3 linked regions of the Homo sapiens genome follow. The protein of the gene in region 3 purifies or fractionates together with the protein of the main gene of each other region. This does not show direct contact. Each region holds a gene or a part of one and is shown on either strand. Other genes may lie near its edges. The genes, in order: ACSL3, NTPCR and IFT140.

What was found.
Region 1: the proteins of IFT140 (region 3) and ACSL3 purify together in Homo sapiens (affinity purification with mass spectrometry; one large-scale study listed by BioGRID and IntAct). This does not show direct contact.
Region 2: the proteins of IFT140 (region 3) and NTPCR purify together in Homo sapiens (affinity purification with mass spectrometry; one large-scale study listed by BioGRID and IntAct). This does not show direct contact.

What each region holds. Positions count from the first base shown.
Region 1 is NC_000002.12:222,930,397-222,934,047, reverse strand, and holds part of ACSL3 (fatty acid CoA ligase Acsl3), read right to left. Parts: intron 3,428-3,651; coding exon 3,236-3,427; intron 883-3,235; coding exon 768-882; intron 1-767. UniProt on the Homo sapiens protein: Acyl-CoA synthetases (ACSL) activates long-chain fatty acids for both synthesis of cellular lipids, and degradation via beta-oxidation.
Region 2 is NC_000001.11:232,971,102-232,974,752, reverse strand, and holds part of NTPCR (cancer-related nucleoside-triphosphatase), read right to left. Parts: intron 1-3,651. UniProt on the Homo sapiens protein: Has nucleotide phosphatase activity towards ATP, GTP, CTP, TTP and UTP. Hydrolyzes nucleoside diphosphates with lower efficiency.
Region 3 is NC_000016.10:1,521,550-1,525,200, reverse strand, and holds part of IFT140 (intraflagellar transport protein 140 homolog), read left to right. Parts: intron 1-284; coding exon 285-417; intron 418-505; coding exon 506-649; intron 650-1,244; coding exon 1,245-1,373; intron 1,374-1,500; coding exon 1,501-1,683; intron 1,684-3,651. UniProt on the Homo sapiens protein: Component of the IFT complex A (IFT-A), a complex required for retrograde ciliary transport and entry into cilia of G protein-coupled receptors (GPCRs).

The sequences.
Region 1 (3,651 bases), on a different chromosome or scaffold from region 3:
GCCCAACGAAGGCAAATACTTTTTTGAAGGCCATAAAATAGTAACATCAGGAAGAAGATGCTTCTGGTTACTATCACATGAATAAATCCAGATCTGTATCATCACTAAAGAAAATACTAAATGGCTAAAGACCAGAATCATTTATAAATAAATGCAATTCATTTCTAACTTGGGCTGTACCCCCAACATCTGTTTCTAAATTAGTTTTCCTGATAACAGATTTTATTTTCCCATAATAATTCATGTCAACTGTCGTAGACAGGTCCCCAGCTGCCTCTTCATCATCATGAGGTGGGGAGGCTGTGTGTTTAGGCTGCAGCTTAACACAGCTTACATAGGAGCCCCAAGACCTGCCTGGAGTGCCGAGCAGGCTCAAGTGTAGAGCAGGAGTAAGTAAGCAGCACACTCCTCACTGCCACTTCTTTACTCCCCATTCCTCTGGAGTAGTTCTGTGAAGCTTCCCCTGCTGAGGGACAGGTAGGTAGGGGTACCAAGGCAGCAGGAAGGAAGGTTTTATTTTCTTCACCTCCCTCCATGGGACACTGCAGTGAGACGTAAAGCAGAAAACAGGGACAGAGAGAAAGATCAGGGGAAGCCTTACAAGGAAAAGAGTCAGCTAATGGCTGCAATGAGAAGGAGGCCATTCCCACAAGTAACAGATAGGAAGAGTTCTCGGAACATTTTTACAAAGAAGGTCCATACAGGTAGGAAATGTCTATGGACATCAAATATTTTAAGTAAAAGTAGTATGAATTCCACGTTCTTACCTGTTTGCATATGCACAAATGTTATCTACTAGTGGAAGATTCTTCAAAGCTGCCTCTACTTTCCCAAGAGAAACATATTCCCCTGCCTGTAGTTTTACAAGGTCCTTTTTACGATCTGCAAAACAAAGAAAGGTGGAGAGGGGAAAACAATGAGTAATAATATTAGTAACATTTAATACATATATAAATACTGGCCATTCTCTAAGTAATTTGCTATCAAATTATTTAAAACTTTGCAAAATTAAGCATTAATGGTTATGCTGAAATTAAAAGCACATATTAAAATTAGGCCCTAATTTTTGTACTGCTAAATACATGCTTTTTTTTTTTTTTTTTTTTTTTTGAGACGGAGTCTCGCTCTGTCGCCCAGGCTGGACTGCGGACTGCAGTGGCGCAATCTCGGCTCACTGCAAGCTCCGCTTCCCGGGTTCACGCCATTCTCCTGCCTCAGCCTCCCGAGTAGCTGGGACTACAGGCGCCCGCCACCGCGCCCGGCTAATTTTTTGTATTTTTAGTAGAGACGGGGTTTCACCTTGTTAGCCAGGATGGTCTCGATCTCCTGACCTCATGATCCACCCGCCTCGGCCTCCCAAAGTGCTGGGATTACAGGCGTGAGCCACCGCGCCCGGCCCATGCTTTTAAAAGAAAAACAGGCCAGGTCCAGTGGCTCATGTCTGTAATCCCAGCACTTCGGGAGGCCGAGGCGGGCACATCACTTGAGGTCAGGAGTTCGAGACCAGCCTGGCCAACATGGTGAAACCCCGACTCTACTAAAAATACGAAAACTAGCTGGGCGTGGTGGTGCACACCTGTAATCCCAGCTACTCAGGAGGCTGAGGCAGGAGAATTGCGTGAACCCAGGAGACAGAGGTTGCAGTGAGCTGAGATGGTGCCACTGCACTCCAGCCTGGGCGACAGAGCAAGACTACATCTCAAAAAAAGAAAGAAAGAAAAACAATTAACTTCTACTTAATGGACTCCATTAGCAGGGCTTCAAGTATGTTCTTCTGAACAGGTTTATTTCTGGTATCCATTAGTACCAGGCAGGTGAAGAAGATATTCAATGCCATCTGCAAGTTCACAACCTATCTGGAGACATGCATAATGCAAAAACGTATTACTTCAATACATTGGTACTACAATGGTAGCGCTAAGTGTTAAGACTCTCCAACCTGGGGATTTGGAAAAAATTCTTGCAAGTGAGGCCTGAGCTGAGGGTTGGATGGTTGGTTGGTTTTGAGATTTTGAGACAGGGTCTCACTCTGTTGCTCATACTGGAGTGCAGTGGCACAATCACGGCCTCCTGGGCTCCTGTGATACTCCCACCTCAGCCTCCCGAGTAGCTGGGATTACAGGCCTGAGTCACTATGCTCAGCTGCTTGAGCCGAGTCCTAAGGGAAAAGTGAGAGGTCAGGTGCAACAACACTGGCAAAAGCCAGAAGAACATCAGCTCTAATTTCAGCTGCATCAAGGAGGAGGAGGAAAACAACTGACGATGAAGGTGAAGAGGGGAACAATGTTAACAGGGGCACCCTGAACTGAGCTTCTAGGAGACATTAAATGGTTGTGGCCAGTAAGATCCATGTTTAGTAATTACATGGTGGCAGTGAGAGGGTGTGTTTAAGGGGGTAAACATGGCAACAGAGAAATTATTGGGAGAGGGTGGCAGAAGGTACAGGCCTGACCAATGATCAAGTAAGAGAGACAAAGAGAGAAGAGTATGATTTTGAGACATAGCTCATAAAATAAACTAGTGGGATATAAAATAGGCATGGGAAGCTGACTGAAGAGAACAGTCTTGAGTCTCCTCCCAGGTTTCTAGTTAGCAAGACAGGGATAGAAATGCCATTAACTTTTTTTTTTTTTTTAGACAGAGTCTTGCTCTGTTGCCCAGGTTGGAGTGCAGTGTCGCGATCTCCGCTTGCTGCAAGCTCTGCCTCCCGGGTTCATGCCATTCTCCTGCCTCGGCCTCCCAAGTAGCTGGGATTACAGGTGCCCGACAAAGACACCACACACGGCTAACTGAAATGCCATTAACTTTTAAAAAAAAAGAACCTAAAAGGAGAAGCAGAATAAGGTATTTTTCAACCCATATGAGTCATAGTACTTGAGCTGCCTGGCTTTCCTCTATTCTCCTGGGCAGGGCAAGGCAAGGGTGCAGTTCAGACTGTGAGAGCTCCATCCACTAATCTCTAGATGTCAGAAACACAGGCAGGAAACAATGACTGAAGGTTATCTAAGAGTAATTTAAAATACCACTGCTGCTGAACCATCTTTGAGAACTCATAACATGTCAGGCCTCATAAATTCCACAGTCCGTAATATTTTATATTCCAGGAGTGATGCAACAACCCAAACTAAGATTACATAAAGATTTATATTATTCAGCGCCTCCTCTAAATATATTGTGCTTCTTGTGTAAACTATTTCAGAAACATTCATTTTCAAAAAAATATTAGATGACTTACCAATAATCTTTAAGCATCCATCGGGTTCAAACTCTCCAATATCCCCAGTACAGAGCCACCTTTGTCCATTTTCATCTTCAAAGAAATCAGCTTTTGTTTTTGCTTCATTTTTGTAGTACCCCATTGTCACACTTTGGCCCCCAATAAGAATTTCACCCCTGGGGTGTGGCTTATCAGTATTAAAGTATCCACCTAATAAAATAATAATTGAGTTAATAGTTGAGTTAAATACAACACATGAAAATTTGAAACTACTAGTTTCTAAACAGTCATCTTATTTTAATCCAATTAGAACTTCCCAAAGGAAAAAAGGCAGACACTATGAATGAACAAAGTTTATCAATTTAACAGTAGGCACAAAATCTCAGTTGCTAAACCATAAGTATTTATGTTTTCAAACTTCTATTCTGAGAAAA
Region 2 (3,651 bases), on a different chromosome or scaffold from region 3:
GGTTCTCCCTCTCTATTGTTCACTGCTAAAACTCCAGTGGATAGAACAGTACCTGACATACAGTGCGTGCTCAATATTTACCAAATAGATGAATAAAAATACTCCATCACCAATTTCTTCTACTGATGCTTTACTAGGTAATAGGAGGTGCCAAAGATTGTATCAGTGAGATTTTATTTTCCTTCTCAGGTACTGTTCTTTCTTTTCTTTTTTCAGCTATTTTTTTTAACACATCAGAGAATGTTATCGTTTTGCCTCAACTGTCAAACATAATTCTTCAAAAGTCAACAGAGGAAGAAAAGCCCACTACACTCACTCAGAGTTTTACTCTTCCCATTGTTCTTTCTTCCTTCCTGATGTTCCAGGTCTCCTTTTACCATTTCCTTTCTGATAAGAGAACTTCCTTTGGCCATTCTTTTAGAGCAGTTCTATTATGACAAATTCTCTTAGTTTTCCTTCATCTGTGAATGTCTTATAGAATTATGAGTCGACAGTTGTTTCAACACTTGGAAAATGTACCACCTCCTTCTGGCCTTCATGGTTTCTCCTGAGAAATCTGCTGTCACTCATATTGTTTTTACCCTATAGGTAAGGTGCTGCTTTCCTTTCACTGCTTTCAAGACTTTAATTTTCATAAGTTTGACTATGGTATGTCTTGGCATGAATTTGAGTTTATCCTCTTGGGGTTCACTGAAAATGTAGGTTTATGTCTTTTGCCAAATATGACAAAAATGCAGCCATTACTTCTTCAAACACTTTTTCAACCCCACACTCATCTCCTGTTACTACAATGATGTGAATGTCACATCTTTTGTTATAGTCCCACAGGTCCCAGAAACTCTGTTCATTTTGTTCATTACTTTTTCTTTTAAGTCTGCTCTTTGTCAGGTAATTTCTATTGTTCTACCTTCAAGTTCACTGATTCTTTCTCCTGTCATCTCTATTCTGCTGATGAGCCCATTCAGTGACTTTTTTATTGGCTATTGTATAGTTCTAAAATTTTCATTTGATTCTTCTATCTTCTAGGTTTTTGCTGAAACTTTCCAGTTCTTGCTGAGACTATTTTTCATTTGTTTCATGTGTATCTGTAATTTTATGAAGCATTTTTATGATAGCTGTTTTCAAATCCTTGCCCTATAATTCCACTATCTGAGTCACCTTGCTGTTGAGATCTGCTGATGGCCTTTCCTCACTCAGGTTTAGGTATTCCTGATTCTTGGCATGACAAATGATTTTCAGTTGTGTCTGTTGTGTTGTTCCTTAGGTCCTTAGGTTCCTAGCCAGTCTGTCTTTTTCTCTTCACTTTTCAGGTCTTCTTATGCTTGTATTATAAATAACATCCTTAGCAGGAAAAATAAACACAAGTGTGTCTACTCTATCTTGTCTAAAACTGGAAGAGTTCTCGGGTGTTTTTGGAAAGTACTCTGTTCACCCAACGTTATGAAGAATAAGTCAAGATAATATTACTAATTTGTGTGGTATATTTCCCCCATATCATGAGCTCAGTCTCATCTTCACACTATGCATATTCATTGGAAAGTACTCTGTTCACCCAACATTGTGAAGAATAAGTCTAGATAATATTACTAATTCGTGTGGTACATTTCCCCCATATCACGGGCTCAGTCTCATCTTCACACTACGCATGTTCAGCTGGTAGCAAGGGGACGCTGACTCTGACCCCTTTTCATAGCTCATTTTCTTACCTGGAATGTTCTCCCTTCTTTTTCCCATTTCCTCCTTCAAGAGCCAACTCAAGAACCCCTTCCTTTGGACACCTCTCCACTACCACTGCTCACATAGATCTCTCCCTTCCCTGCCCCTAGATTTTGATTGCCCCATGGTCTGTTTTTCTTGAGGGCAGAGATCATGCCTCACAGGTGCCTAAACGATGGACTAAGTACTGAATGTGAAGGGCACTCTCAAAAATGGATTCGGATACTTTATTGCATGTGAGCAATGGAAAGAACCCAAAAATATATCTAATCCAACACCTAAGTTTGCAGATAAAGAAAATGAGGTTCTTGGCCAGGCACAGTGGCTCATGCCTATAATTCCAACACTTTGAGAGGCTGAGGCAGGCAGATTGTTTCAGCTCTTCAATTCGAGATCAACCCCGGGCAACATGGTGAAACCCCATCTCTACAAAAAATGCACAAATGAGTCAGGTGTGGTGGCACATGCCTGTAGTCCCAGCTTTTTGGGAGGCTGAGGTGGAGGATGGCTTCAGCCTAGGAGGCAGAGGATGCAGTGAGCCAAGAGCATGCCACTGCACTCCAGCATGGGCCACAGAGACTAACCTTGTCTCAGAAAAAAAGAAAATGAGGTTCTTGATTTATAAAACTGGAAAAGGCCAGGCACAGTGGCTCACACCTGTAATCCCAGCACAGATTACTCTGGGCAACAGAGCAAGACTCTGTCCCTCCCCCTCAAAAAAATAAGTTAAATAAAAAATAAAATAAAACTGAAACAGAAGGACCACACAAACCCCAAAGCAACAACAACAAAAAAAAACAGGGTATGTCAGCCCCTATCTCTTACTTAATTAACTCAAAGCTAATTGTTTTATTTACAGATCATTAGAAGCAATGATTATCTTGCCTGGAGAATAATTTTGAGTCTCAGAGAGCGGAAGAAATGTGGTATGATCCTAAGACACAAAGTCTGTTTCTGGGCATCACAGTCAGCTCCTTTCAATCCTTCCTTAGGACTGTTAGATTAGATTAGTTTGTGGAACTAGCCAATCCCTGGAGTCTAACACTAGCAATTTCCCGGTCTTCCAGCCTAGAAGCTATCTGACCTCAAAACTAATTTTCTTTCATGATCTTTCACTATTCATTGCCTTGATTTCCATGGAAACTCTATAATCACAACCAAAAATGTAAAATAAGAGAAGACGACATGAAACTCTGAAGAACCCCACAGACTTTTCAGGGCTCTCAAATGTCACCTCCTTGAAGAGACCTTCCCTGATCGCCCTTGCTACTCCTGCCCCCAACTACCACATTGCCTGGTTTCTTTATTTTTGCCTTTATCAGTATCTGAAATTGCTTAACTTATCTGTTCACATTTTTGGTATTCAGCTCCTCCATTAGAATGTAAGCTCCATGAAAGCAGCGCCTTGGTCAGTCTCGTTCACCACAGTATCCCAAGACTTAGAATGACACCTAGCATACAGTAGGTGCTCAATCACTATTGACCAAATGAAGGAATAAATAAATCAATAAAGAAGCGCATACATTTTTCCAAGTCTGGCTGGTCTAACCCTAATGGCTGTTTACCACCACACTCCAGGATTCTTGGTGGCAACATGTGGATACTCCAGGATTCTTTGGTGGCAACATGTGGATACTGCCAGTGGGCCAAGGTGACATTTCACTCAGTGATTAAAATGATCATGAGGAAGGTGCTCACGGGTACTCACTCTCCACTCCCCCTGATAGGAGTGGCCCTGCCTGCCTGACTTGTTCACTTGGCACTTGCAGGGCCAGGGAGCTTTTAAACTGGGGGTGGGGAGTGAGGTGTGTGAGCAGAGCTCAGCCAAGAGCACAGCTACCACTGACTCAAAGAAACTAAGGGTAGGGGTTGGGGAGAAGCAATATCTGACTGAGAGGAAAACAGAGGGACAACAGGGAAAGAAAGGCAAGAATT
Region 3 (3,651 bases):
GCACTCCATCCTGGAGGTTTGCAGGGACCCCAGGGCTTGCTGAGACGGCTCCCTTTCCCGTGCTTCCTGCACGAGTGGGCAGCGTCCTCCCGGCTCCTCAGAGCCATGCCAGGGCCCTGAGCCAGGCCCTCCCTTTGGACAAAGCCAGGGGTCCTCACTCTTGGCCCAGCCTGTTTGCAGGTCAGGTGACATGCACTCTAAGGGTGGCACAGGGGCGGGGTGGGGGCCGTCCCGGGTTGGAGCGGGGCTCGGGTGGAGAATCCATGGTCTTGGGCTGCCCGCAGGACCCTGTGGCGGTGGTGGGCGCAGTACCTGGAGAGCCAGGGCGAGATGGACGCCGCGCTGCACTACTACGAGCTGGCCCGGGACCACTTCTCCCTGGTCCGCATCCACTGCTTCCAGGGCAATGTCCAGAAGGTAAGGTCCCCGCAGGGGAGCCGGCCAGGCGGACACGAGGCAGACACAAGGCCACCGTGTCTCGTCTTTGGGTTCTTTGTCTTTCTAGGCTGCGCAAATAGCCAACGAGACAGGAAACCTGGCGGCCTCCTACCACCTCGCCCGCCAGTACGAGAGCCAGGAGGAGGTCGGGCAGGCGGTGCACTTCTACACCCGGGCACAGGCCTTCAAGAATGCCATCCGCCTGTGCAAGGTACCACGGGCCCGGGGTGGGGAGCCGGCGCTTCTCGAGGTCCCCTGAGGAGAGCTTCAAGTGGAAAAGTGGACAGAGAGAATCGTGTCAGTGACACGTGGTCCGGCCAGTGTCTGCCACTCACTGCTCACCCCGTCTGCCTCACCCGCCCACCCCTCTGCCCACCCCTGGCCGCTTCCATCTGACATTGTTTGCAAAGCACTGAATTGTCCCCAGATGTTTCCCAGGCTCCAGGGCTCCTGAGTGGGTGGTGAGGCTGCTCACGGCCTATGGCCTTGCAGACGGCAGACCCTTCCTAGATAGCTGTTGGGCGTTCTGCACCACACAAATGTCCCAACCTGGGCTCTCGCTTCCAGAAGCATCTCCCGTGTCAGGTATTTCTTGCAGTGCTCTGTGAAATAGAACCCAGAGCATCGGAAAATCCTTGTAGACAAACCCAGTAAGTCATCAGCTCCTTAAAACCCATCACCGCAGAGATCGCTGAGCAGTGTGTCAAAGTGAAGGGGCGGGTTCGCACCCGGCCACATTCCAGAATCTCAGCGGACCTGGGGAAGCCAGTGGGAGCCGCTTCAGGGCCCTGCCTCCCTCCCTGCAGGAGAACGGCCTGGACGACCAGCTCATGAACTTGGCCCTGCTGAGCTCCCCCGAGGACATGATCGAGGCGGCCCGATACTACGAGGAGAAGGGCGTGCAGATGGACAGGGCGGTCATGCTGTACCACAAGGTGAGGGCTGGCCACCGGTGGGGACCTGGGGGAGGGGCAGCAAGCCAGGGGGCCCTTGCCTGTGCGAGGCCTCCGTGCTCGGGCCCCCAGGCCTCGGGCAGCTGCTCAGAGCCCACCGTATCCGCAGGCTGGCCACTTCTCCAAGGCCCTGGAGCTGGCCTTTGCCACCCAGCAGTTTGTGGCCCTACAGCTCATAGCAGAGGACCTGGATGAGACGTCAGACCCTGCGCTCCTGGCCCGCTGCTCCGACTTCTTCATCGAGCACAGTCAGTACGAGAGGGCGGTAGAGCTGCTGCTGGCTGCCAGGAAGGTACGGGGCCAGCGGGGCCTGGGCTCGGCTCCACGCAGGCACCACGGCTCAGGTCTCCTGTCCCCAGAGGCTGTGGGAATGGCTGCTTGCTTGGTTATGAGTTCTCCAGGAAGGCTGCGGTGGGTGCCCCCTGCCCTAGGTTTCACATACGGCACACCCAGGAGGTCCGCAAGTGTAGACTCGCCATCCTTCACGCTGGCATCTGATCATACACAGGGAATGGTGCACTCACCTATGGTGGGGGGTAAAAACACACAGAACACAAAATTTACCATCTTAGCCTTTTTTTTTTTTTTTTTGAGACAGGGTCTCGCTCTGTTGCCCAGGCTGGACTGTGGTGGTGCCATCTTGGTTCACTGCAGCCTCAACTTCCCAGGCTCAAGCAATCCTCCTTCCTCCTGAGTAGCCGGGAATACAGGAGTGTGCCACCATCCCCAGCTAATTTTTTAAATTTTTTTTCATAGACTCAGGGTCTTGCTGTGTTGCCCAGGCTGGTCTTGAACTCCTGGGCTCAAGCAATCCTCCTGCCTCAGCCTCCCAAAGCACTGGGACTGTAGATGTGAGCCCTGTGACTGGCCAGGAACAGTTTATTCAAATGGAAATATGGGTGGTTCCCAAATATAAAATGCTTAGCTTTATTCATGATAGAAATACATATCAAAATTCACGGAGATGCCATTTTTTACTGGGCTACTAAGGGTGGAAAGGCTGGAGTGCAGTGGCGCAATCTCGGCTCACTGCAAGCTCCACTTCCTGGGTTCAGGCGATTCTCCTGCTTCAGCCTCCCAAGTAGCAGGGACTACAGGTGCCTGCCACCACACCCAGCTAATTTTTGTATTTTAGTAGAGATGGGGTTCCACCACGTTGGCCAGGATGGTCTCGATCTCTTGACCTCGTGATCTGCCTGCCTCGGCCCCCCAAATTGCTGGGATTACAGGCGTGAGCCACCATGCTTGGCCGACATATTCTCTTTTTGTTTTTTGAAATGGAGTTTCACTCTTGTTGCCCAGGCTATAGTGCAATGGGGCGATCTCAGCTCACCGCAACCTCCACCTCCCGGGTTCAAGTGATTCTCCTGCCTCAGATTCCCCAGTAGCTGGGATTACAGGCATGCACCACCACGCCCGGCTAATTTTGTATTTTTATTTTTATTTTTATTTTGAGACAGAGTCTCTCTCTGTCACCCAGACTGCAGTCCAGTGGCACAATCTTGGCTTACTGCAACCTCAGCCTCCCGGGTTCAAGCAATTCCCCTGCCTCAGCCTCCCGAGTAGCTGGGACTACAGGCGCCCACCACCACACCTGTGTTAATTTTCTGTGTTTAGTAGAGACGAGGTTTCACCATGTTGGCCAGGATGGTCTCGATCTCCTGATCTCATGATCCACCCTCCTCAGCCTCCCAAAGTGCTTGAGATTACAGGCATGAGCCATGGCATCCAGCCTAATTTTGTATTTTTAGTAGAGACGGGGTTTCTCCATGTTGGTCAGGCTGGTCTCGAACTCCTGACCTCAGGTGATTTACCTACCTCGGCCTCCCAAAGTGCTGGGATTACAGGTGTGAGCCACCATGCTCAGCCATATTCTTTTTTTTTTTTTTTTTAAATATAAATGTGTTATTACTTCATATATATTTGTGGGTTATTACTGTTTTTTTTTCTTGTGGAGATGGGGGTCTGACTGTGTTGCCCAGGCTGGTCTCAAACTCCTAGGCCCAAGTGATCCTCTCACCTTGGCCTCCCAAAGTGCTGGAATTACAGGCATGAGCCAACATGCCCGGCCTAAGACATATTCTCAAGTGAAGAATGTAAAATTTTTCTTAAAATGAGGGCTGGGTGTGGTGGCTCACGCCTGTAATCCCAGCACTTTGGGAGGCCGAGGTGGGTGGATCACCTGAGGTCAGGAGTTTGAGCCCAGCCTGACCAACAGGGAGAAACCCTGTCTCTACTAAAAAAAATTACAAAATTAGCC